Linked DNA regions of Homo sapiens. The protein of the gene in region 2 interacts with the protein of the main gene of each other region in a pairwise test. Each region holds a gene or a part of one and is shown on either strand. Other genes may lie near its edges. The genes, in order: VPS41 and VIPAS39.

Region 1 (12,114 bases), on a different chromosome or scaffold from region 2:
CCTAGCACTTGAATAAGGAAAAGGTAGAAATATATAAGGAAAATGCCTGTCCTTCAAAAAAAGTTTAACAGTTACAAAACACGAGAAGAGATGATAGAGAACGAAGAGAAATGGATGAAGGAGGAATCTCTGGTGGACTGAGTGGTGTCTCAAAATATCGCTCCTGGAACTGGAAAGTGATTCAAACTGAGTAAAAAAACTCCAAAGTCTTCAAAGGCTCAACTGCAAACAGGCTTACTACACTTACAAGGCCTAAACCTGGTCCATCAACATCCTGACTACTTTGCTGGTCCATAAACTCAGTAGAATCAGTAATATCTAGGAGAGTAACTGTTTTCATAGAGCTAGAGGCAGCGGGGGGCACGGAGGCTAGGGTTGGGGGGAAGTGGGGGAGGAATCTCTCTAAGCCCTCAGGTTGAAGCACCAAGCTGGAAAATGAGCCACCATGACAATATCTAAAATATAAACTGAAGGTCATTAATATTTAGCAAGTGCTTCCCATGTGCTAGGCTCTATATAAGATGCTTTATGAACATTAATCGTATCTATCTTCACAGCAACCATACAAGGCAAGCAACAAGACCCATTTTTCACACGAGGAAACTGAAGAATACAGGAGGTAAGTGCTATGCCCAGGTCATACAAAAAGCACAAGGTATGGCCATGATACAAATGAGGGTCCACCTCCAGTTCTTTAGCACTATCCCAAGCAGTAGGCACTGGAGGCTAGACAGCAAGAAAATGGAAAGAGCCCAGAGTTGGAACCCCTTTCTCCTCCTCATCAGCTGTAGGACATTAGGCAATCAAGCCACATTTGGGTCTCACTTTCCTCAATCTTAAAATAACTACCTTTTCCTTCCATTTATCTCCTCAGTTTGGCCAAGTCTCATTCCCTAACTTCCTAGTTTCTTTGTCCATTTCTAATATAGTTTTTAAATATCTGATTTAAGGTACTTTACTGTGGCCAGGCACGGTGGCTCACGCCTATAATCCCAACACTTTGGGAGGCTGAGGCAGGCAGATCACTTGAGGCCAGGAGTTTGACACCTGCTTGGCCAACATGGCAAAACCCCATCTCTACTAAAAACACAAAAGTGAACTGGGCGTGTTGGTGCACACCTGTAATCACAGCTACTCAGGAGCCTGAAGCATGAGAATCGCTTGAACCTGGGAGGTGGAGGTTGCAGTGAGCCGAGATCGTGCCACTGCACTCCAGTCTTGGTGACAAAGCAAGACTTTGTCTAAAAAAAAATAAAAATAAAAAAATAAAAAAAACAAACCACGTTAAGGTAGTTTATTGTATCTGCAAATGCTTGTTTATAGACATTCAACTCATGATGGAGTGTTATGTTATTGTTTTCTGCTACTGAAACCTCTGATTCTGACTTTCTTTCTTCCTATAGTAGCTTTTTATGGATGTTACTTGTCATTTCAATTCATTTTTAAATGTCTTGGATTTTCCTGGATAGCAGTAACAGACGTTACCAGGGAAGAAGGGGTGAAGCATCTGTGTGGTTTACCAGGTTTCTGCATTTTCTTTTCTAGGAGGCATCTTTTTTTGGTGAGTAGGTAAGTCTCCTGATCTGATGATGTTCTTTGTTTCTGGGCACCCTTAATTTCCTCTGCTTTGTCCTTTTCTTTCACTGCCAAGCCGCTAAGGATGCCTCCCCCATCTCTGCCAAAAGCAGCACCATCCAACTCTTGTCACCTAAAGCCCTATACACTTTCAAGCTCCTTTCTTTAAATTCTCGAAATCCACCAAGTCTCACATCTGTTCTCAGATCTCCCCACTAAGAATGGGGCCCCCTTCTCACTAAGATGATTTTTATGTGCATTCTGCCTCGGCTGGGTCTCAGCTGTACTCTCTTTATTTCTACCCAGTCTCCATCTGACTGTCAGCTCCAGCGTCAACTCCAGAGCCGACTCTGCTGGCTTTGGATGTTTATTTTCCCACTTGCACTGAAGTTTGTATTACTCCCCATTTGCTAATTATACTAGAGGCCTAGATTGTGTGTGCTTTTATTTACTCTTTGTTGAGCTGTTTAGTATTTGGAGCATGTGTGGAAAGATTTAGATTTAGGTGGCTGCCAACACCCTCCTCACCTGCAAAATGAAATTCCTCAACAGAGTTCCAGCACTGTCTGATTCTGTACCAATGATTCTAAGAACACTGGAATCTTAGTTAATTAGAGATTTCCAAAATAAGGTAACCTAAAATGCTTTTCAATACTGTATGAGAAATTAACAAATATACCCTATCTATAAGCAAACTCAGAAATGCCTTACCAGAAGCCCCACAGTAATGGAAATCCTTATTAATGAAAATGTTAGAAACCATGACTACACAATGACATAATACATAACAAGCTTGTCCAACCCATGGCCCGCAGGCCACATATGGCCTAGGATGGCTTTGAATGCAGCTCAACACAAATTCATAAACTTTCTTAAAACACTGTTTGATTTTCTGCTGCAATTTTTTTTAGCTCATCAGCTATTGTTAGTGTATTTTATGTGTGGCCCAAGACAATTCTTCTTCCAATGTGACCCGGGGAGCCAAAAGATTGGACATCCCTGATATATAATCTGTTCTCTAGAGAAATATGCATAAGTCCAACTTTTCCCTGGAAAAGCAACAAAATTCACATAAGCTTATGCAGTATCAACCCAAATGTAATAGATTATCATGGCTAGAGTCATATCAGTGTGTATTTCTAGCAGGTTATCACAGATACATTTTCATTCCTCTGAGCGAAATGAAATATTAAAAGGAAAAATGTAATTCTTCTTATGAGTCCATCTATAAAATTGATAAGCCAATTACATTATGCTTGGGCCAGGTGCAGTGACTCATGCCTATAATCCCAGCACTTTGGGAGGCCAAGGCAGGCGGATCACCTGAGGTCAAGAGTTTGAGAGCAGCCTGGCCAACATGGTGAAACCCTGTCTCTACTAAAAATACAAAAATTATCTGGGCATGGTGGTGGGCGCCTGTAATCCCAGCTACTCGGGAGGCTGAGGCTGGAGAATCACTTGAACCCAGGAGATAGAGGTTATAGTGAGCCCAGACTGCACCATTGCACTCTAGCCTAGGTGACAAGAGTGAAACTCTGTCTCAAAAAAAAAAAAAAAAAAATTTATATTATGCTTAAACATTTCTTATGCAGACTTGAAAATAAATTTTTTAAAAACTCCTTCCTTATATATTATTCTCCTTAAGAAACTATCTTTATCACAATAACCTAACAACTTTTAAAGTAGCTCCCTTTTTAAGAAGCAAACTCCAGGCCGGGCGCGGTGGCTCACGCCTGTAATCCCAGCACTTTGGGAGGCAGAGGCGGGTGGATCACAAGGTCAGGAGATCAAGACCATCCTGGCTAACACGGTGAAACCCTGCCTCTACTAAAAATACAAAAAATTAGCTGGGCGTGGCGGCGGGCGCCTGTAGTCCCAGTTACTCAGGAGGCTGAGGCAGGAGAATGGTGTGAACCTGGGAGACGGAGCCTGCAGTGAGCCGAGATGGAGCCACTACACTCCAGCCTGGGCAACAGAGCGAGACTCCGTCTCAAAAAAAAAAAAAAAAAAGAAGCAAACTCCAATTTCAATGATTCAAAAATTATACCAACAAACATGTCACATTCATTAAAAGAACAAATAAAGAATAAACATCATAAAACCTACAGTGGCTATTTTTAAAAAGCAGGTGAGGGGGATGTTAAAGTGTTGAGATAAATTTCTAAAACTTTGTATCAATTTTCCAACTGCCAACATGTTTCAAGTTAAAATATTGTTTCAGATGAAAACTTTTTGTTCCTTTTCTTATTTTTTAAGCTAATCCATTTAATCTTTTTTAAGATAGCTGGCATATTAAAAGCTCTTCCCCAAGGCTTAGTTACCTATCGCCCTGCTTTACACCCTCAGCCCCTGGGAATGTTGCATTTAGCAAAGAAGCGCAACTCAAGAGAACAACGTGGTGAGCTACAAATCCGAGGGCTCCTGAGTCACCACCTTACCTCAGACTCATCTGTAGATTCTTCAAGGGACCCAGTTTCCTATAAAGCATAGAAAAAGAAAATGGTCAGAAGAGATGATAAAAGAATAATCATTTGCAAGGGGAAAGAGTCCTCATGTTCCTACTACCACGCATCTGCCCTTTTTGGAAGAGAATCTACAACTATACTTTAGAGGACCACATGCTCTGACTTTCACATGTCTCCTGCAACTTCTCCACACCCTGGCAGGCAGATCCTGCTGCTCTCCCTCAAAGAGTTAACAGGTAAACAAATTACCCCAGGAACTTATCATCTGAGGGCCTGGAAGACTCTCTCCCTTGTTAATAATGGAAACCCATCTGGCAAAGCAGCCTCACTAATCTCAGAAGGGAAGAGGAAACTGCCATCTCATGTTATCTACAAGCCAATTTTTATACTGAAAAGTTCTTGTGCTATTAATTATCATGCTATTAATCTGGTTGAGTTAAAATGACTGTCTTGCTAAAATAGCTTTTTAAAAGAATCTCCTACAGTGGTACCTATCAGACCCTGTGTAAACAAGCTGTATAATTTACATGCACTCTTTAAACCATCACCACTAAGACAAATTCTGCCATTTAACACAGTTTCCCTCTCGCTAGACAATGAATCTTGCTGCTCTGAAGGAAACAAAGCAAAAAGGGAAAAATTGACTTGATCCTGCTAATCTCTCACCTGTCCAGTGAAAGAGAGAATCTGCTGATGCCATGCATCCTCAAAGAGGTCAGCAAAATGAAGATTTACTTAACGTACTTATAGATATCAATAGCAATAAAAGGTTACAACTAATATGCTGACACTGAATGTAAGCACTTTACAACAATCCATGAGATAAACAAAGAACAAGAAAAAAATGGGGCAAGGACATTTTAGATATAACTAATACATTTTCAAGAAAAAAATGAACATTTTAAGGAAGATCGATGCATATATTACTCAATACAAGTTGGACAGCGGGATAAATGTAAATCTAGTGTTTAAAATCATTTTAATTTCATTCATCAAAAATTAGCAAGAGCCTGACAGGTGGCAGGCACCTTCCAAAGTACAGCCTGGAGGACAACACAGTCCTTGCCTTCAAAGGCCATGGGTAAAATGGGGATATGTTCCTTGTAATTAAGAATTTTATTATACTTGTATCATTAACCACAATGAATATTAGAATCTCCTCTGTAACTCAATGCAGCCTGTTTAGCTTAATGTCAATCCAAGTCTCATAAAGTTCTTATTCATTTGAAGCTACAATAATCCACAGTAACATTTTTGTTCTTAGCACTACATAAAAAAAACAATTATTGCACTACATGATAGCTGTCCAGAGAGTTAATGACATGTATCATGTTCCACCTTCTAAAATGTTTCTCCTCTGCACTCACCATCACAGTTCCTGGTTTTAGTCCTCTTACTGTACTGATCCTTCTCTTGTGGACATAGTCCACTTTAACATTAACAATCACTATTCTGACTTCTTTACTGAACATCTATTATAAACTGCTCATTATGTTCCATTCACCACCCACAACATTATAAACTTTCCTAACACCACTGGGGTTGGAAGAGTGAGGCTTAGAGGTTGAGTTTAATGACTTCTAACATCCTTTCCATCTCTGTGAGTCGCTGAATATTATGTTATTAGCATCAGCAATACAAGGCTTTGATAACTATGCCAATAAACCACACTTAAGATTCCTATTTCCTGTATGTACAGTTCTAAAAAGACACTTGAGTACTCTTTCAGGAAAATCACATTAAACCTAAGGAAATTTTTTTTTCCTCATATAGAATCCACTCAAGTATGCACATGAGGTAAATGGGTGAATACCCCATTTATGTTCTTCATTAAAACAAAAACATCTGGGCTGGGCACAGTGGCTCACGCCCGTAATCCCAGCATTTTGGGAGGCCGAGGCAGGTGGATCACCTGAGGTAAGGAGTTCAAGACCAGACTGGCCAACATGGTGAAACCTCATCTCTAGAAAAAATGAAAAGAAAATTAGCTAGGTGTGGTGGCATGCACCTGTAGTCCCAGCTACTTGGGAGGACCACTTGAACCCGGAAGAATCACTCGAGCCCAGCAGGTCAAGGCTGCAGTGAGCTGTGATTGCGTCACTGCGTTCCAGCCTGAGGAACAGAGTAAGACACTGTCTCGATTAAAACAAAACAAAACAAAACAAAATTATCTTAAGTGAAACAACTCAGAAACAGTCAAATATGCATGTTCTTACTTATAAGTAGAAGCTAAATAATGTGTACACGTGGACAAAGAGTAGAGAATGGCAGACCACGGAGACTGGGAAGGGTAGATGATGAGAAAATTATTTAATGGATACAATATATATTATTCAGGTGACAGTGACACTAAAATCCCAGAGTTCACCACTATGCAATATATGTAACAAAATTGCACCTGTACCCATTAAATGTATGTAAATTAAAAAAGAAAAAACAGAAGTCTCCAACCAGCAATTTCAATCCAAAAACTCAAAATCAAATTACACTCTTTCTCCACACCAGAAAGCATGCAGTGCCAGAATTTGACACCGTGAGGCAGGAAGATCTGAGACCTGAATCTTCAGGGAAAACTGGGCTCTGAGAGTAGCTTCTTTGGCTATGGAATTGATGGAGAACATTTACTCTAGGAAACTCTGAGACTTGCCTTCAGCACCACTACGAACATCTCACACAGACAGGCGATCTCAAAAAAAACTTGTTTCCACAATCCTACCAAAGCAATGCATGAGTGATGTCAAGAATTAGGCTGGTCTGTTATTTCTTAGCTTCATTCATTCATCAAGCCCTCTAATTAATATGCTAGAGAGAGAAAGGCAAAGAAGACGTAAAGTAAATGTCCTCATTAAGAAATCCAAGAAGGCTGAACTTTGAGAAAGGTAACAATTTGAGAATGAGTCAGTGGTTTTCAAACTTTTTTTTTAGCTTCACACTCTCATTTAAAGAATCTAACTTCAAATCCTGAAATGTAAGTTATAAATTATGCTGTTTTCAAAGTGAAATAAGCAAGACACAAAAGGACAAATATTGCATGATTCCACTTATATAACACAGAAGTAAAACAGAGGTTACCAAAGGCAGAGGGAGGATGTAGTGGGGAGTTACTGTTAAATGGGTACAGAGTTTCAGTTTGTGATGATTAAAAGTTCTAGAGAGGCAGAGTGGTTGTCTTAGTACATTTGTGTTGCTCTAAAGGAATACCTAACTAAGGCGGGTTAATTTATAAAGAAAAGAGCGTTATTTGGCTCACGGTTCTGCAGTCTGTACCAGAAGCACGGCACCAGCATCTGCTTCTGATGAGGGCCTCAGGCTGCTTCTACTCATGGCAGTAGGTTGAAGGGTAGCTGGCATATGCAGAGATCACATGGCAAGACAGGAAGCAAAAGAGGGCAATGGGGAGGTGCCAGGCTCTTTTTAACAACCAGCTCTCTTGGGAACTAATAGAAAGAGAACTCACTATTTCAAGGATGGGACCAAGCCATCGTGAGAGATCTGCCCCCATTAGATCTCCCACCTCTAATACTGGGGAACATGAGATTTTAGGTGGACAAACATCACAACTACAGCAGTGGTGATGGTTGCACAACAATGTGAGTGTATTTAATGCCACTGAATCATACACTTAAAAATGGTTAAGGTGGGGGTGGCTCACACCTGTAATCCCAGCACTTTGGGAGGCTAAGGCAAGAGGATTGCTTAAGGCCAGGGAATTTGAGACCAGTGTGGGCAACACAGAAAGATCCTGTCTCTACAAAAAAAAATGTTTTCAACTTTTTTAATGGTTAAAATGGTAATTTTATGCTATGTGTATTTTACTATAATAAAGTGCTGTTGATCAAAGCAAAAGTGATAGGCTGGAAGATACCCAGTGACACAAATGTCTATCTGAGCCAATTCTGGGTAACGGATTGACAGTTAAACTCAGAAACATTTCATTTTACCTTTCTTTTGCAAACCAATCCCTTAAGCCCAACCACCTACCCAAACAGCTTTACTGTGTGATTTCTGTGCCTTGACATGTGGCCTCTCTAATGTACTCATCACCTGCCATCAGGATTATCTTCCCAAAGCACAGACCAGACGGCCACTGCCCTCCTCAAACAACCCTCAGTAGTGCTCCAGCCTGAAGAATAGCTTTCAGATTCCCCAGCAAAGTAGTCAAAGTCCTTCCCAGTCTGGCCCCCAACAGACCTTTAGCCTCACTCCCCACTCTCTCCACAAACCTGTGACCCTCCAGCCACACTGGAGGACCCCTCGCCGAGATATTGCTTATATCTCTGTGCCACAAGTGGCAAATCAGTGGCCTGGGGTCTGGATATGGCCTGCAGGTGTTTTGTTTGGCCTAGGTGGTGTTTTTAAAAAAGCTTCCATATAAAAACCTGTACTCCTGACTGTATGTCTACATAAGATCCACACTTCCACATACCATCAGTTGCAGCTGAGCGGTTACACCCAGGACAGAATGCACTCCACCACCCCCACCACTCCCAATTTCTGACACCAAGGCACGCCTGCTCATGTGCACCACCCCCTGCCTGCCTGAGTTTGTGCTGCCTGCTCTGCACTTTCCTCATGTCACTCCCTCCATTTAGAAGGCCCCTGGCCCCATCCTGCACTCATCCTGATGGAATGCTCTACAGGCTCAGTGGGTCTCTCAGGGATACCCCAGGGAGAGGTTGCCAGGCACTCAGCCTGAGGACATTCACTCTCTCTTCAATATCAGAGCTTGGTTTTTACGTTTCTTCCCGTACCCCTCAGCTAGCACCTAATATTAACTGCCTTGTCCTACAAGTTCTCATTTTAAATATGCTGTGGATAAACCCAAAGGCTTTGCCTTCTTTGTCTCCCAGTATCCTACTGGAAAAACATGTTGCTGGTGATGATGATGAGACAAGCTGCCAATCTAAAACAAATTCTTCCTCCTCCATATGTTGCCTTTCCCTTATGAGCAATACCAAGCATATTTTCTCCAGACTCATGTCTGAATTATTAGCTTATGAACTGTAGGACAGTTACAGAAAGGGAACTGCAGGAAGGTAGCACCTTCCAACAAATGCAGCAATTCCAACAATTCCTTGGGCTCCTAGAAGACTTCTCTCATACAGGCTTTCAACCAGCCCCCATCCCTAATCCTCCCATCAGCATAGAACCCTATGACAATGGCCTGGGAGAAGGCTTGGCCCAGCTGGCCTCAGAGGTCAGGAGTGGTGAAAAGGAAGACTGTCAGCCCAGGACAGAGAGGATCCAGGACTTGCCTGGGTTGTGAAGTCCTCAGAATTGTAAGTGCCCACATACTGTTGGGGAAGAAAAACAGAATTTGGGGGAGAAATGGTAGCCTGGGGCCTAAGGAAGGCCACTCCAAACTTTGCAGGAGGGCTCACCTGGGTCTGTGTTGCAGGAAAAAAAAGAGCAGAGACCAGGCTCCAAGAAATCATCTATCTCCATCTATGCCTGGAGGTACATGTGAACACTCACTGAGGTACTGCCACCTTCTCTGTCTTCCCAACAAACTATGCGCCCTAGCTGAGCATAATGAGAAAGAGAGTTCTGATATAGGCACTGTCTGATATAGGCACAGGAAGGAGGAAATATTTTGTGTGGTATGTATGTGATATCCCTGTTGTCACAGAGCTTCAATTTAAAAAACCTCAAAGGAGTTGTGGCCAGCTTTAGACACTCAGGGACTAGGCTGGTTGAGTAGTAAAGATGAGGACTCAGGTTACCAAGCCCATTCAGCCTACTGGGCTCAGCTACTGCACTCATCTTATTCTGCAAATGAAGAAAAATCTTGACGTGTGCCCCAGCGTGGAAAAGAGGGCAAACTTGGTAACCAGGTGACCCAGTCCCAAATCTGCCTTTGCATGAGAATCATCAAAACTCAGTTTGGGGAATTAGCTAATACCCACTAACACACTCCATCTGCACAGACTCTGATTCAGTAGGTTTAAAATAAGAGCCTGGAATCACAAGCCATTTTTAACAAAAACAAAAACAAAAAAACCATAAGGAGGCCCAGGCATCAAGAAGAAACAAAGGCAACAGGGGACTGCACAGCCATGAATGGGAAGTAGCATGAGACACAGAAGCCCCTGATCTGATGAGTGTCCTCTCTCCAAGGTGTTAATGTGGGCGCGGCGGAGGCTACTAATAATCAGCTAGTGAAGTGGCCTCTAGCCGACCAATTCAGGTGAAGATAAGTGGAAAAACTAACAAAGCAATCCGCTAGTCCAGCAAAACTAATCTGTGACTACATTTTAGTTACATGATGGGAAAGAGTGCACCCTCTAAAATCTGTCTGATTCTATACTTTTAAAACTTCTTGTTTGGGTTTTGTTTTTCCTTTAGTTAGTAGTAACACTGCCTTTAAAATATCTATCTTAGCCAAACTGTAAGAAAAGAGAATTGTGCATACGTAAGCCAAGTCCAGGTTTCGATGATTAACCTCTGTCTTATTTATACAACCATTTCAACCTAGCCACTTTAACATACTTTATATTCACAAAAGTTTTAACATACTTCATACTCACAAAAGTTTTAGAGAGTAAAATTCCCAGTTACAGGCAAGAAAATCGAAGCACTCAAATTTGTATTGATTTGATTTTTATTGTAACATAATCACATGGGGATATACATGACAAATATGACATCTAATAATCCATAAGTGATCTACAATAAGGACAGAATTCCCCTAATTTCTAAAATGCAGAAGGAGAATTCAAAGTAGAAACTCTCCTACTTGATTAAGAAATAGATGGTCTAATCGTGGAAATACTTTAATGGACCAGGGTCCAGGTTGGTTGATTAGGAAGATCAAAGGGTACCTGGGGAGCAGGCAAGAGTAAAGAAAGTATAGAATGTAACCTACATTATAGTATAGATGTAATCCACATTACATCTGAATTAATAACTTAAAAAAGGTGCAAGTAAGATAAAATAATTTCACGCAAATCCTACTAATATACAATTTGACAATTTGAAATGCTATTTTCCCCCTAATAAATTCATTTAAACACTTTACTAAACACTTAGTACCTATAAAGCACTAGCCCTGTGGAAGATACAGACATGAGTAAGTTCTTGTTCTTATTCTTGAGGACTCAGCAATCTCTAGGAGAGATAAGACAAATACACAAACAACCAGACTTCAAGCAGAATGTTATTCATAAGAAAGATATGGACAAATACTGTTGGGCATCTGTGAATATGAAGGTCAACTATAAATCGTTTTGGAGCTAAGCAAAACTGCTGGTTAGAAGATTTCCAGGCAGAATGCAGGGTATTCATTTTTTCTGTAAACTATAAAATATATATGTAGTTACTTTTGACAACTACCTTTACCATATTAGGCAAAAGCAAGAATTTCCCAGTGACTTATAAAAAAATTTTCATTCATACCTAAAAAGTGGTTTTAGTTTCAGATCCTCTGAGCTGTTTTATACCACAATAACTCAGTGCAGATGTCACTATTTTGGTTCTTCTGAAAATAAATGGGGAGGGGAGCAATCACCAAAGAAACAACACTCACGAAAGATAATGTGGAGACATTTAGTTTTGTGTTGCTAATCCTGGAGATTACTGGCATTTATGATACATGATACCAAGAAAAAAATGTATGCCAAGTTTTCTAAAAAGTTCAATAGAACAGTTATTTTCTCCATTTTTGGGGGTTTTTTTGTTGTTGTTGTTTGTTTTTGAGATGGAGTCTCCCTCTTGTCACCCAGGCTGGAGTGCAATGGCACAATCTCGGCTCACTGCAACCTCTGCCTCCTGGGTTCAAGTGATTCTCCTGCCTCAGCCTCCCGAGTAGCTGGGATTACAGGCGCCCACCACCATGCCTGACTAATTTTTTTGTATTTTTAGTAGTGACGGGGTTTCACCATGTTGGCCCGTCTGGTCTCGAACTCCTGACCTCAGGTGATCCACCCGCCTCAGCCTCCCGAAGTGCTGGGATTACAGGCATGAGCCACCGCACGCAGCCCTATTTTCTCCATTTTTATACACTTTTAGCTTTAAAAAAATGGTATAATAAAGCCCTACTACCGTCATCAGATTTCAATGGCTTCCTACTGTGAAA
Region 2 (12,114 bases):
AGACCCAAAGGGGAGTATAGGGTGAGTTACAGCATACACTGGTGTGACACTTTCCACAGTATAAAGTACCTTGACATATGTTACCTGGCTTGATTTTCCCAACTATTTGAGTAGATATTTTTTTAACCCTGTTTTATAGATTAGAAAACTGGGTTTCTAAACATGAGGGCTTACCTGGGGTCTCAGAGCTGGGAAAGGGTGCAACTTAGACTTATAATCTCTATATTCTGACTCAGCTCTGCCATACTTTGCTTACTCATTATGCTCCCACTTGAAGGCTGTACTTTGAAACCCAGTGATCATCACTGCAGTCTGGAAGCCTGGTAGAGCTCATATTCCCATGAAACAAATAAAGCAAATTGATTCATAAGGAAGAAACCATATCCTAAGGTCGGAAAAGGAACATGTCTCCAACATCTCTCTCTTTCCTTCTGTTGGCCAAAGGCATTAATTGTTAGAATCCTAAAACGTGATTCTAATTCATCTAGAGGTTGCAGTCCTGAACTGGTAGGCATGGGGCTACTGGCTTTGTCAATTGGCTCCTCCCTCTTTGATCCATCTCCTCCTATCTATATTGCCCCTGCTCTAGTTCCTTCAGAAACTCAAAACAAAACCGTCCCATTTCTTCATTTTTTTCACATCCATTCCCTCCCACAAATTATTTCCCCCTTAGACACTAAGACTGAGTTTGAGTTGAGGAGCGGGTATGCTGATAAATTTGATTCCTTAACTTCCTGGGATTCACGTATTGCTAATATTCCAGGATTACAGCAATGACTGGAGCCCCAGTGATACAGTGCGACGTCTCCGGAAGGGCAAGGTAAGGACAGAGAATTTTTGTGAGGTTCTTTGGGAAGCTGGGCAGCTTGTTCACACAGGGAAGATTTCTTGACCTCTCTTCAGTTCTCATTTGTTCAATGAATTTCAGGGGGAAAATAAATCCACTAAGGTTGAAAGTCAGTGGCAAAATTTCTGATTCTCCATTACTGTTGCTTTGATGGGGTAGTGGGGAAAGAGTGATGGATGAGAGGGAAAAGTACATTTAAGAGTGAGAGGCCAGGGCCAGGGGTGGTGGCTCACGCCTGTAATCCCAGCACTTTGGGAGGCCGAGGAGGGTGGATCACGAGGTCAAGAGATCAAGACCATCCTGGCCAACATGGTGAAACCCCATCTGTACTAAAAATATAAAAAATTAGCCGGGTGTGGTGGCAGGCACCTGTAGTCCCAGCTACTCGGGAGGCTGAGGCAGGAGAATCACTTGAACCCAGGAGGTGGAGGTTGCAGTGAGCTGAGATTGCACCACTGCATTTCAGCCTGGTGAGTGAGACTCCGTCTCAAAAAAAAAAAAGAGAAGCCGGGCATGGTGGCTCACGCCTGTAATCCCAGCACTTTGGGAGGCCAAGGCAGGCAGATCACCTGAGGTCAGGAGTTCTAGACCAGCCTGGCCAACATGGTGAAACCCCATCTCTACTAAAAATACAAAAAATTAGGCGGGCGTGGTGGCGTGCACCTGTAATCCCAGCTACTCGGGAGGCTGAGGCAGGAGAATCACTTGAATCTGGGAAGTGGAGGTTGTAGTGAGCTGAGATCGTGCCACTGCACTCCAGCCTGGGCAACAAGAGTGAAACTCCGCCCCCCTGCCCAAAAAAAGAGAGTGAGAACAATCTTTTATGTTAGATCTGTGATTCATTGAGTTCATTTTTGCATATGGTGTGATGTAAGGGTTTGAGTTTAATTGTTTTCCCCATGTAGATCTCCATTTGTTCCAGCACTATTTGTTGAAAAAACTATCCTTTCCCCATTGAATTATCCTGCTGATGCTTTTGTTGAAAATCGGGCCAGTCACAGTGGCTCATGCCTGTAATCCCAGAACTTGGGGAGGCCAAGGTGGGAGGATCTGTCGAGCCCAGGAGTTCAAGACTAGGCTGGGCAACATAGTGAGACCGTGTCTCTACAAATGATAAAAAAAAAAAAATTAGCCAGGTGTGCGGCCGGGCACGGTGGTTCATGCCTGTAATCCCAGCACTTTGGAAGGCCAAGACAGGCAGATCACCTGAGGTTGGGAGTTTAAGACCAGCCTGACCAACATGGAGAAACCCCGTCTCTACTAAAAATACAAAATTAGCTGGGCGTGGTGGCACATGCCTGTAAATCACAGCTTCTCAGGAGGCTGAGGCAAGAGAATCGTTTGAACCTGGTGGCCGAGATTGTGCAATTGCACTCCAGCCTGGGCAACAAGAGCGGAACTCCATCTTAAAAAAAAAAAAGCCAGGTGTGGCTAATTTATAATATAAATGTATATTATAATTTATAATTATAAATATATAAATGTAACTTATAATCTTATAGCAGGATATGTTTTTAGTCACAGTTGCTTGAGAGGCTGAGATGGAAGGATTGCTTGAGCCCTGAAGGTCGAGGCTGCAATGAGCCGAGATTGTGCCACTCCATTCCAGCTTAGGCAACAGAGCAAGACCCTGTCTCAAGAAGAAAAAAATAAGAAGAAAATTAATGATCATATATGTGTAGGCCTATTTCTGGACTCTTTATTCTAGTTCATTGGATTATTTATCCTTAAGCTAATACTACAGTCTTGATTATTATATAAATGTTGAAATCAAGATACTTCAACTTTGTTGAAGCTTTCAACCTTCAATGTTGTTCTCTTCCAAAATTGTTTTGGCTGTTCTAGATCCTTTATACTTCCATATCGATTTTAGTAGCACCTTGGCAGTGTCTACAAAAGAGTTGTTGAGATTTTTATTGGGATTGCCTTGAATGTACAGATCAATTTTGGTAGAATTGGCAATGATCATAATAATTAATGGATCAAAATGGATCATAATGCCAGGTGTGGTGGCTTGTGCCTATAATCCTAGCTACTCAGGAGGCTGAGGCAGGAAGATCAGTTGAGCCCTGGAGGCTGAGGCTGCAGTGAGCTGTGATTGCATCACTGCACTCCAACCTGGGCGAGAGAGCGAGACCCTCTCTCTAAAAAAAAAGCAGATAAAATGGATTATACTTCACAGGTTCTAAGGATTGGGAATGAAAAAATGAATAAATAAAATGGATCATAGACCTAAATGTAAATTAATTGTTAAAGCTATAAAACTTCTAGAAGAAAATATAGACGAAAATCTTTATGATCTTGACTTAGGCAAAGATTTATTACCTAGGACACAAAAAGCATGAACCATAAATGAAAAAATTGATAAAATGGACTTCATCAAAATTTAAAACTTTTATTTTTTTTTTAGAAACCACTGTTAAAGCCATGAAAGGACCACCATAGCTCAGAGAAAGTAGTTTCAAAACACGTATATTATAAAGGACTTTCATCCAGAATATATATAAAACTTTTTTTTTTTTTTTTTGAGATGGAGTCTCCTTCTGTCGCCCGGGCTGGAGTGCAGTGGTGCGATCTCAGCTCACTGCAACCTACGCCTCCCAGGTTCAAGTGATTCTCCTGCTTCAGCCTCCTGAGTAGCTGGAATTAACAGGTGTGTGCCACCATGCCTGGCTAATTTTTGTATTTTTAGTAGAGAGGAGGTTTCACCATGTTGGCCAGACTGGTCTCAAACTCCTGACCTCAGGTGATCTGCCTGCCTTGGCCTCCCAAAGTGCTGGGATTATATGCGTGAGCCACTGTACTTGGCCAGAATATATATAAAACTTTTATTAAACCTGGCAATATAGCAAGACCCCATCTCTACAAAATAAAAATTAGCCAGGTGTGATGGCACTTACCTATGGTCCCAGCTACTCAGGAGGCTTGAGGTGGGAGGATTGCTTGAGCCCAGGAAGTCGAGGCTGCACTGAGCCATGATCATGCCACTGCACTCCAGCCTGGGCAATACAGTGAGACCCTGTCTCAGATAAAACAACAACAACAACAAAACTCTTAGCTTAGTGATAAGTACAGTCTGATAAAAAAATTGGCACAAGAGTTGACCAGACACATCACAAAAGAAGATACATGAATGACCAATAATCACTTTAAAAGATACTTAAAATTATAGTTATCAAGAAAATGTGAGTTGAAACTATGAGATACTGGCTGGGCATGGTGGCTCACGCCTGTAATCCCAGCACCTTGGGAGGCTGAGGCAGGTGGATCACGGGGTCAGGAGATCAAGACCATCCTGGCTAACATGGTGAAACCCTGTCTCTACTAAAAATACAAAAAAATTAGCCGGGTGTGGTGGCAGGTGCCCATAGTCCCAGCTACTCGGGAGGCTGAGGCAGGAGAATGGTGTGAACCCGGGAAGCGGGGCTTGCAGTGAGCCAAGATTGCGCCACTGCACTCCAACCTGGGCGACAGAGCGAGACTCCGTCTCAAAAAAAAAAAAATCACTGAACTATATACTTAAATAGGGTATGTTTTACTGTATGCAAATTATGAATAAGGGTTCTTAAAAAAGAACAAGTGATTGGCTGGGCGCGGTGGCTCATGCCTGTAATCCCAGCACTTTGGGAGGCTGAGGTGGGTGGATGACGAGGTCAGGAGATCGAGACCATCCTGGCTAACACAGTGAAACCCCGTCTCTACTAAAAATTAAATTACTAAAAAAAAATTAGCCGGGCATGGTGGCGGGCACCTCTAGTCCCAGCTACTTAGGACGCTGAGGCAGGAGAATGGTGTGAACCTGGGAGGCGGAGCTTGCAGTGAGCCGAGATTGAGCCACTGCACTCCAGCCTGGGTGACAGAGCAAGACTCCGTCTCAAAAAGAACAAGTGATTTCTGTTGACTTTATCAAGACTTCAGGACATTAGCATCTTATAGGGCAGCAGGCTGAACTAGAGAGGGTGGTGGGAGCCAACTGTTTTATAAGTGCTGGGGACCATAGGGTAAAAATAAAGAGACTCTCCTTGGGGACATTTTGTTTCATTATTGCTTATTCTTTAGTATCCAGCAACAAAGGAATAAAGAAAACTGTCTTCTTGTGTACTAATTCTAGTGTTATTCTGCCAGGTTTGCTCACTAGAGAGATTCCGCTCCTTACAGGACAAACTACAACTCCTAGAAGAGGCAGTAAGCATGCATGATGGAAACGTCATTACTGCAGTGAGTTGTCGGATTTGTTGTTGTTTGTTTAATTATTGTTTTCACTAGTTTCTGAAAATCCAATCAAATAGACTAACATTTTGTGTTAAATGTTAAGTAAAGATCCTGGATTCCCCTTGGAGGTGTAGGATTCTAAGTAATCTGTGCTTTAAGGGCTTAGCTGGTGCCACATGCACTAAGCGTGGAACCCTGTTTTTTTTTTTTTTTGGAGACAGGGTCTTGCTCTGTTGCCCAGGTTGAAGTGCAGTGGTGTGATGATGGCTCGCTGTAGCCTCGACCTCCTGAGCTTAAGTGATCCTCTCACCTCAGGTCCCCGAGTAGCTGGGACCACAGGTGCATACCACCATTCCTGGCTAGTTTTTTTTTTTTTTTTTTTGAGATGGAGTCTCACTCTGTCGCCCAGGCTAGTGTGCAGTAGGACAATCTTGGCTCACTGTGTGATACTCCTGCCTCAGCCTCCCAAGTAGTTGGGATTACAGGCGTGGGCCACCATGCCCAGCTAATTTTTGTATTTTTAGTAGATATGGGGTTTCACTACATTGGCTGGGCTGGTCTCAAACTCCTGACCTCAGGTGATCCACCAGCCTCGGCCTCCCAAAGAGCTGGGATTATAGGCGTGAGCTACCACGCTTGGCCTTGCCTGGCTAATTTTTAAATTTTTTTGTAGAGACAGGGTCTTGCTATGTTGCCCAAGCTGATCTCACACTCCTGGGCTCAAGTAATCTCCCTGCCTTAGCCTCCCAAAGTGTTGGAATTATGGGCATGAGTCACCATGCCCAGCCTATGTGAAACCGTTGATTGTAACCAAGACACACAAGGTTGGCTACTATGTGTTATATAAAACAATCTGAGGGAGAAGAGATGTGAGCGTATCCTCTTTCAGAGGGAGGTGTCTCTCAGCAGCATGGGCACGGGTGTGTGGACTCTCAAGACACAGCTCAGTTCCAGATAGCCATTGGCTTTCCTTGCATCACATACAGAGCTGTTGGCTATACCTTCAGAGATTGCTAATGAGTTGCTGGCCCCGTGTCTGTAGTGCTCAGGGCATGACTCTGTGTTGGAAAGTTTGCACAGTCTTTGTTCTTTTTTCCTGTAGGTTCTGATTTTCCTGAAGAGGACACTGAGCAAAGGTGAGAATGGCTTGCAGGAAATCTTCAGTCAGCAAGGTGTCTGCCACATTCGAGGGGAGAATGCCATGTGCCTTTCATACCAGAATTCATTAGTCAAGTCTATTTCAGAGACAAGTGGGGTGGCCTGAGACTTCAGAGCACAAATCACATCTCTGAGGGCGTCCTTTAGGGTGATGACTACATTAACCACAGAGCCCCCTCAGATGGCTGTGTTGGTTTGAAGAAGTCAGAGTCCATGCTAAGTGCCTGCTGTTTGGGTTGGTGTGAAATGAAAAGCTGATTTAATGGCTATGAGCTGAGTGTGTTGATGGTGAATTAAGACATAGGGGTAAACCATTCTTAGCTTTTGTTAGGGTTTGATGAGATAATATTTGGAATGTGTGAGTAGGGAGACCAATTTCACACTTGACTAATTGGCTTTAATCTTTCTCAACTTAACTCCTGACTGTCTGACAGAGATCCTCTTCCGAGAGCTGGAGGTGCGACAGGTTGCCCTGAGACATCTTATTCACTTCCTTAAGGAAATAGGGGATCAAAAGTTGCTTTTAGACCTCTTCAGGTAAGAACTGATCATCTGGTCTATAAAGTTTAGTAAGTACTTGTTTCAAAGCACTCTGAGGGATACAAAGGAATAGAAGACGCCAACTGCCCTTTTCCTGGAAGTGCTTGGAAGACAAGCTATTGAAGTGTGAGGGGATAACTAGCAGTACAGCATAGCTTATGATAAGGTGCAAGTTGGTTAAGAACCAGGCTTTGGAGTCACATGCACTTGGGTTGAATGCTATTATAGGTCTCCCACATCATTCATTGAGTGACCTTGGCCAAGTTATCAACCCTCTTCATGAGTTTTTCACATCGATCAAATGGAGATGATGACACCTACCCACAGGGTTATTATGAAGATGAAGGGCTAGTATGTGAGCCAGCACTTAGCATAATACCTAGTTTGTAGTATTAGTATTTATTAAGTGTTTTCTTACAAAAGACCTAGAATAAAGGTATCTTTTATTACTTGATTCTAAGTGATACCAGTGGGAAGTACAGTAGAAGAGAAGAAGAAAATATTTTCAGTCAGGATACCCAGGGAAAGCCTCATGGAAGTGATTAGGATTTGCATGGGCCTATGAAACTAGGTAGGATTCTGATAGGTGAGAGGTAGGCATGTCTGCTGGGGGTAAAGAGGGCTGAGGTCTTCTATCATGTTTTTCTTCCCTCTAATTCCAGTCAGTGGGGACTATTTCCCACCTTTGGATTAAAATATGTGCACATGATGTCTTTTCTTCAGTGTCAGAGAAAGGGTTAGAACCTCTGTTTAGACTGACATGTGGCCCAAGGTGACTGATATCCAGTGACTCCAGCACAGCAATGAGCTCCCCAAAAGACTGAGGTGGGGAAAAGCAGGTTACCTGGTTAGGGTCAAGATTACAGATGTTAGCCAGGAATTTGCAAAAGAAGACATGGTCACAGAGGCTGGCTGCTTCCTCCCTCCTTCCTTCCCTCCCTTACTCTTTCCCAACCAACAGGGCTTTATCAGGCATCACCTCCATGCCAAAATGGTAATGTTAATTATGGTGGTCTATTCAGAGTAAAGAAGAATCAGAAGACAAAAGTCCTGGTGCTCCAAGGTCTGGGGGAGACAAAACACATTGTACTCTGTCCATGAAAACAGTAAAGAACAATATAGAAAATCTGTTTTCAAGATTGTATTGACAGAGAATAGTGCTTTAATCTTAGGAAAAAAAAAAACAACAACCAAGTTTTCTGTGGGCTAGAGTAGGTGGCTCTGAGCCTCCCTGTCAGAACTGTTAACAAAGTTATTAGTTCCTTGCAGTACCTTCTTGTCCTTGCTTTTTGTTCAGCCAGAGAGACCAGGGGAACAATGATATCTGATCAACCATTTATCTTGTGTATAGAGGGAAATGAGTTTGAATTGTGTTTCTCCTAGAGGAGGCACTCGATTTTGTGAGGTTATACTGCCACACATCAATAGATACAAATGCCCTGCTCCCTTCTGCTTCTTCCCAGGTTCCTAGATAGAACAGAAGAGCTTGCGGTAAGTGTGGCCTTTGTTTCAGTTGGGTACCTGTTTAACAGAAATCTAGGCTGGGCACAGTGGCTCACGCCTGTAATCCCAGCACTTTGGGAGGCCGAGGTGGGTGGATCACCTGAGGTCAGGAGTTCAAGACCAGCCTGGCCAACATGGTGAAACCCTGTCTCTACTAAAAATACAAAATTAGCTGGGTGTGGTGGCACGCACCTGTAATCCCAGCTACTTGGGAGGCTGAGGCAGGAGAATTGCTTGAACCTGGGATGGGGAGGTTGCAGTGATCTGAGATCGTGCCATTGCACTCCAGCCTGGGCAACAGAGTGAGACTCTGTCTCACGAACCCAGAAATCTAAGCCAAACCCCCGCCTCCAAGATCCCAGACTGATTGAACTATTTCCTTTGATATTGATTATATACAGAAGAGAGAGGCACCTGGAAAACCTGAAAACTTAATCCAAATGATGTATTCTTTCTTTTTATATGCTCTTTTGGTTGGGCTTATGAATAAATTTTAAAAAATAAACATGTGAAAATTGGCCTGGTCAATTTGTAATTTGTTTTTCGGTTGTTTTCAGGTCCTGGTTGTTAGGAGTTTTGGGGTTTTGGCTTCTCACAAAGAAAATGTTGAAGGCTAAGAGGATAAGAAACCAGATATAGGTCAAGAAGGAAGATAGGTCAAGTTGATGATACACCCAATACACGTTTTGGCTGAGAATTCAATGGCCAGGTGTTAAGATTAAATTTTGGCAGATTTTCACAATCATGGAATGAACTCCTGGAATACAAGAATAAATCTGAAATTTTACCAAAAACTCAGTTGTATTATTAAAACTTCAGCAATTCATGTTAAAAAAAAAAAAAAAAAACTTGGCAGGAATAAGAATTTCCAGCCAAGCACGGTAGCTTATGCCTGTAATGCCAGCACTTGGGAGGCTGAGGTGGGAGGAACACTAGAGTCCAGGAGTTAGAGAACAGCCTGGGCAACATAGTGAGATCCCATCTCTAAAAAAAAATTTAAAAAATTAGCAAAGCATGGTGGCGCATGCCTGTAGTCCCAGCTACCTGGGAAGCTGAGGTAGGAGAATCGCTTAAGTCTGGGAGGTCATGTCTGGGTGAAAGAATGAGACCTTGTCTCAAAGAATTTCTCAGCACTGTCGATGGCAGGATTGCTTTTTTAGTTATTGTACAACACATTTGTGATATCCATACAGACATTCAGTTGGCACATTAAATATTGTTAACCTTTGAACAGCATAATTATATATATAATACTGAAAATGCTTTTCAGAAACATGGTTTTTTTTTTTCGAGACAGGCTGGAGTACAGTGGTGCGTGATCATATAGTTTACTGCAGACTCTCAATTCCTGGCTCAAGCCTTAGGCTCCCAAGTAGCTGGGACTACAGGTGCACACGACCACACCTGACTAATTTTTAAAAATCTTTTTGTAGAGACGGGGGTCTCACTTTGTTTGCCAGGCTGGTCTTGAACTCCTAGCCTCAAGCTATCCTCCCACCTTGGCCTCCCAAAGTTCTGGGATTACAGATGTGAACCACCTCACCTGGCTCAGTAACATGTTTTCTGAAAGGAACTTGTACTTAATATTCAAAGCATGAGAGAATCTGAAAAATCCATTTTCTTAATCAACTAAAAATGATTGGCAGCCTGTAGTAATCATTTGAAAAGCTGTTTGTTTATATTTTTAAATCTCTGTAAGTTCAAAACTATAAGGATTTTTCTTCTTACAGCATTCTTATAAAGTTTTTTGTTTTGATTTTCATTAGTGAGAATAAATGTGTTTTGGGTAACTCATTTTTATCTAAAACTTTATTTTCTTTATACTCATTATGTTCGAATTGAAGATGATTTATCATGCATGTTGTTGTATATAGATTTTGAGTTTTTCAACCTTGTAAACTTTGGAAGTGGCAAAGCTGATAGTACACTTTTAGTGTATGCCCACAGAATATGAAGGTTTCCCATGTAGAACTTTTCTTGAAAGACCTAAGGATGAAATGGAATTGAATAACAAAAAATTAACTATAGCTCTTAAAGGTTACTTTCTTTAATATTAGGAATGATTGTATACCAACTATTTTATATGAACTATTTTACGAAGATTGGATTATGATATGTAATTTCTGTTATTCTGTCTTATGTTATTTACATTTTTACATTTACATTTTTATATACATTTACATTTTTGTATACATCTGTTGGCTCAATCTGAGAATATTTATGAACAGTGAGTCAGAATGACATGCCCTATTTATATTACTGATGTTAATTGTTAGATATTTACATGATCATACTACCATTGATCATGTACATGGTCAAGGATGCCAAAAATAACACTGAAATAGGTATTTAGCTCTTGGACTTTTCAAAATCTAAAGCTGAAGCAAAATATTCATTTTTGGTTAAATACTGAGGCTAAAGTGAAACTTAAAGGTAAAGCTTGGTACTCTATCTACTCAGTGCTTCATTATAGGTCAGCACTGGCCAATAGAACTTTCTACAATGATAGAAATATTCCATATTTGGGCCGGGCGTGGTGGCTCACGCCTGTAATCCCAGCACACTGGGAGACCAAGTTGGGCAGGTCACCTGAGGTCTGGAGTTCGAGACCAGCCTGGCCATCATAGTGAAACCCTGCCTCTACTAAAAGTACAAAAATTAGCCAGGCATGGTGGTGGGCACCTGTAATCCCAGCTACTTGGGAGGCTGAGGCAGGAGAATCGCTTGAACCTGGGAGGCAGAGGTTGCAATGAGCTGAGATTGTGCCATTGCACTCCAGCCTGGGCAACAAGAGTGAGACTTCGTCTCAAAAAAAAAAAAAAAAAAATTTTCCATATTTGTGTTGTCCAATATAGTAGCTCCTAGTCACATGTAGCTGTTGAGTTCTTTAAAAGTGGTTAGTGTTAACTAAGGAGGTGAATTTTTACATTAATTAATTTAAATTTAAAGAAACAGTTGTAGCTAGTGGCTATTGTATCGTACAGTGCAGTTATAGATAAACCTACTAATGATACTTAGTCACTCTTTGCCTATCCCCCCACCCGCCTCCAATAACCATCTATACCCAGAAATGAAGAATTTGTTTTTTTAAAGCATGGGAAGTTCAGTTAATCAGCTATCTCCCTCATCTAAGGAGACAAAATACCTCAAAGCCTTTTTCTGCTTTTTGTAGCTATCTCATTATCGAGAGCATTTGAACATTCAGGACCCTGACAAACGAAAAGAATTTCTTAAAACCTGTGTTGGGTAAGTATGGGGGAAAAATGATTTTAAGTATAAATACCTTTACCCAGAAGGAATGAAGAAAATTAAAAAGGGTGGAATGGATAGGCAGGAAGGGGAGGGCTAACAATGAATCATACCAGCATCATTCAGGGTCACCTCATGCAGTGGTGTTCACACACTAGTCCCCAGCAGAGTTTCCACTGCTTGATGGTAAACTGAGGAAAAAAAAAGACAAATGTAGAGAGATTTTTTTTCCTAAAGCTAAATTTATTTAATTTGAAAGGTTATCTTTTATTGTAGGATTTTGTCCTCACTCTTCTCTTCTTCTTTGGTACTAAAATGAGCTGTACCTTTTTTTATGACCTTAGGTAATAAAAAGATAGCAATACTTTAGGGACCTGATGCATTTTTTCAGTGTTACTGGTCCTTGAAACCCCAAAGTCCAAGAACCACTGATCCAGGGCAAGCTTTCATCCAGAATTTAACTTATTGCAAAACCCAGCTCCACATATTCCTGTGACAGGATGCCCGTTGCTCTTGAAACAGCTCAGTTTGTTTTTGAACAACCTTCGTTATTGGAAAGTGCTTCCTTACGTTAAGCTGAAATTTGCTTCCCTGTATCTTTCAAG

What was found.
Region 1: the proteins of VIPAS39 (region 2) and VPS41 interact in binary tests that used the Homo sapiens proteins (3 or more experiments, as listed by UniProt).

What each region holds. Positions count from the first base shown.
Region 1 is NC_000007.14:38,894,078-38,906,191, forward strand, and holds part of VPS41 (vacuolar protein sorting-associated protein 41 homolog), read right to left. Parts: intron 4,053-12,114; coding exon 4,014-4,052; intron 1-4,013. UniProt on the Homo sapiens protein: Plays a role in vesicle-mediated protein trafficking to lysosomal compartments including the endocytic membrane transport and autophagic pathways. Acts as a component of the HOPS endosomal tethering complex.
Region 2 is NC_000014.9:77,437,200-77,449,313, reverse strand, and holds part of VIPAS39 (spermatogenesis-defective protein 39 homolog), read left to right. Parts: coding exon 1-21; intron 22-763; coding exon 764-820; intron 821-4,972; coding exon 4,973-5,065; intron 5,066-6,161; coding exon 6,162-6,195; intron 6,196-6,651; coding exon 6,652-6,754; intron 6,755-8,220; coding exon 8,221-8,248; intron 8,249-11,432; coding exon 11,433-11,506; intron 11,507-12,114.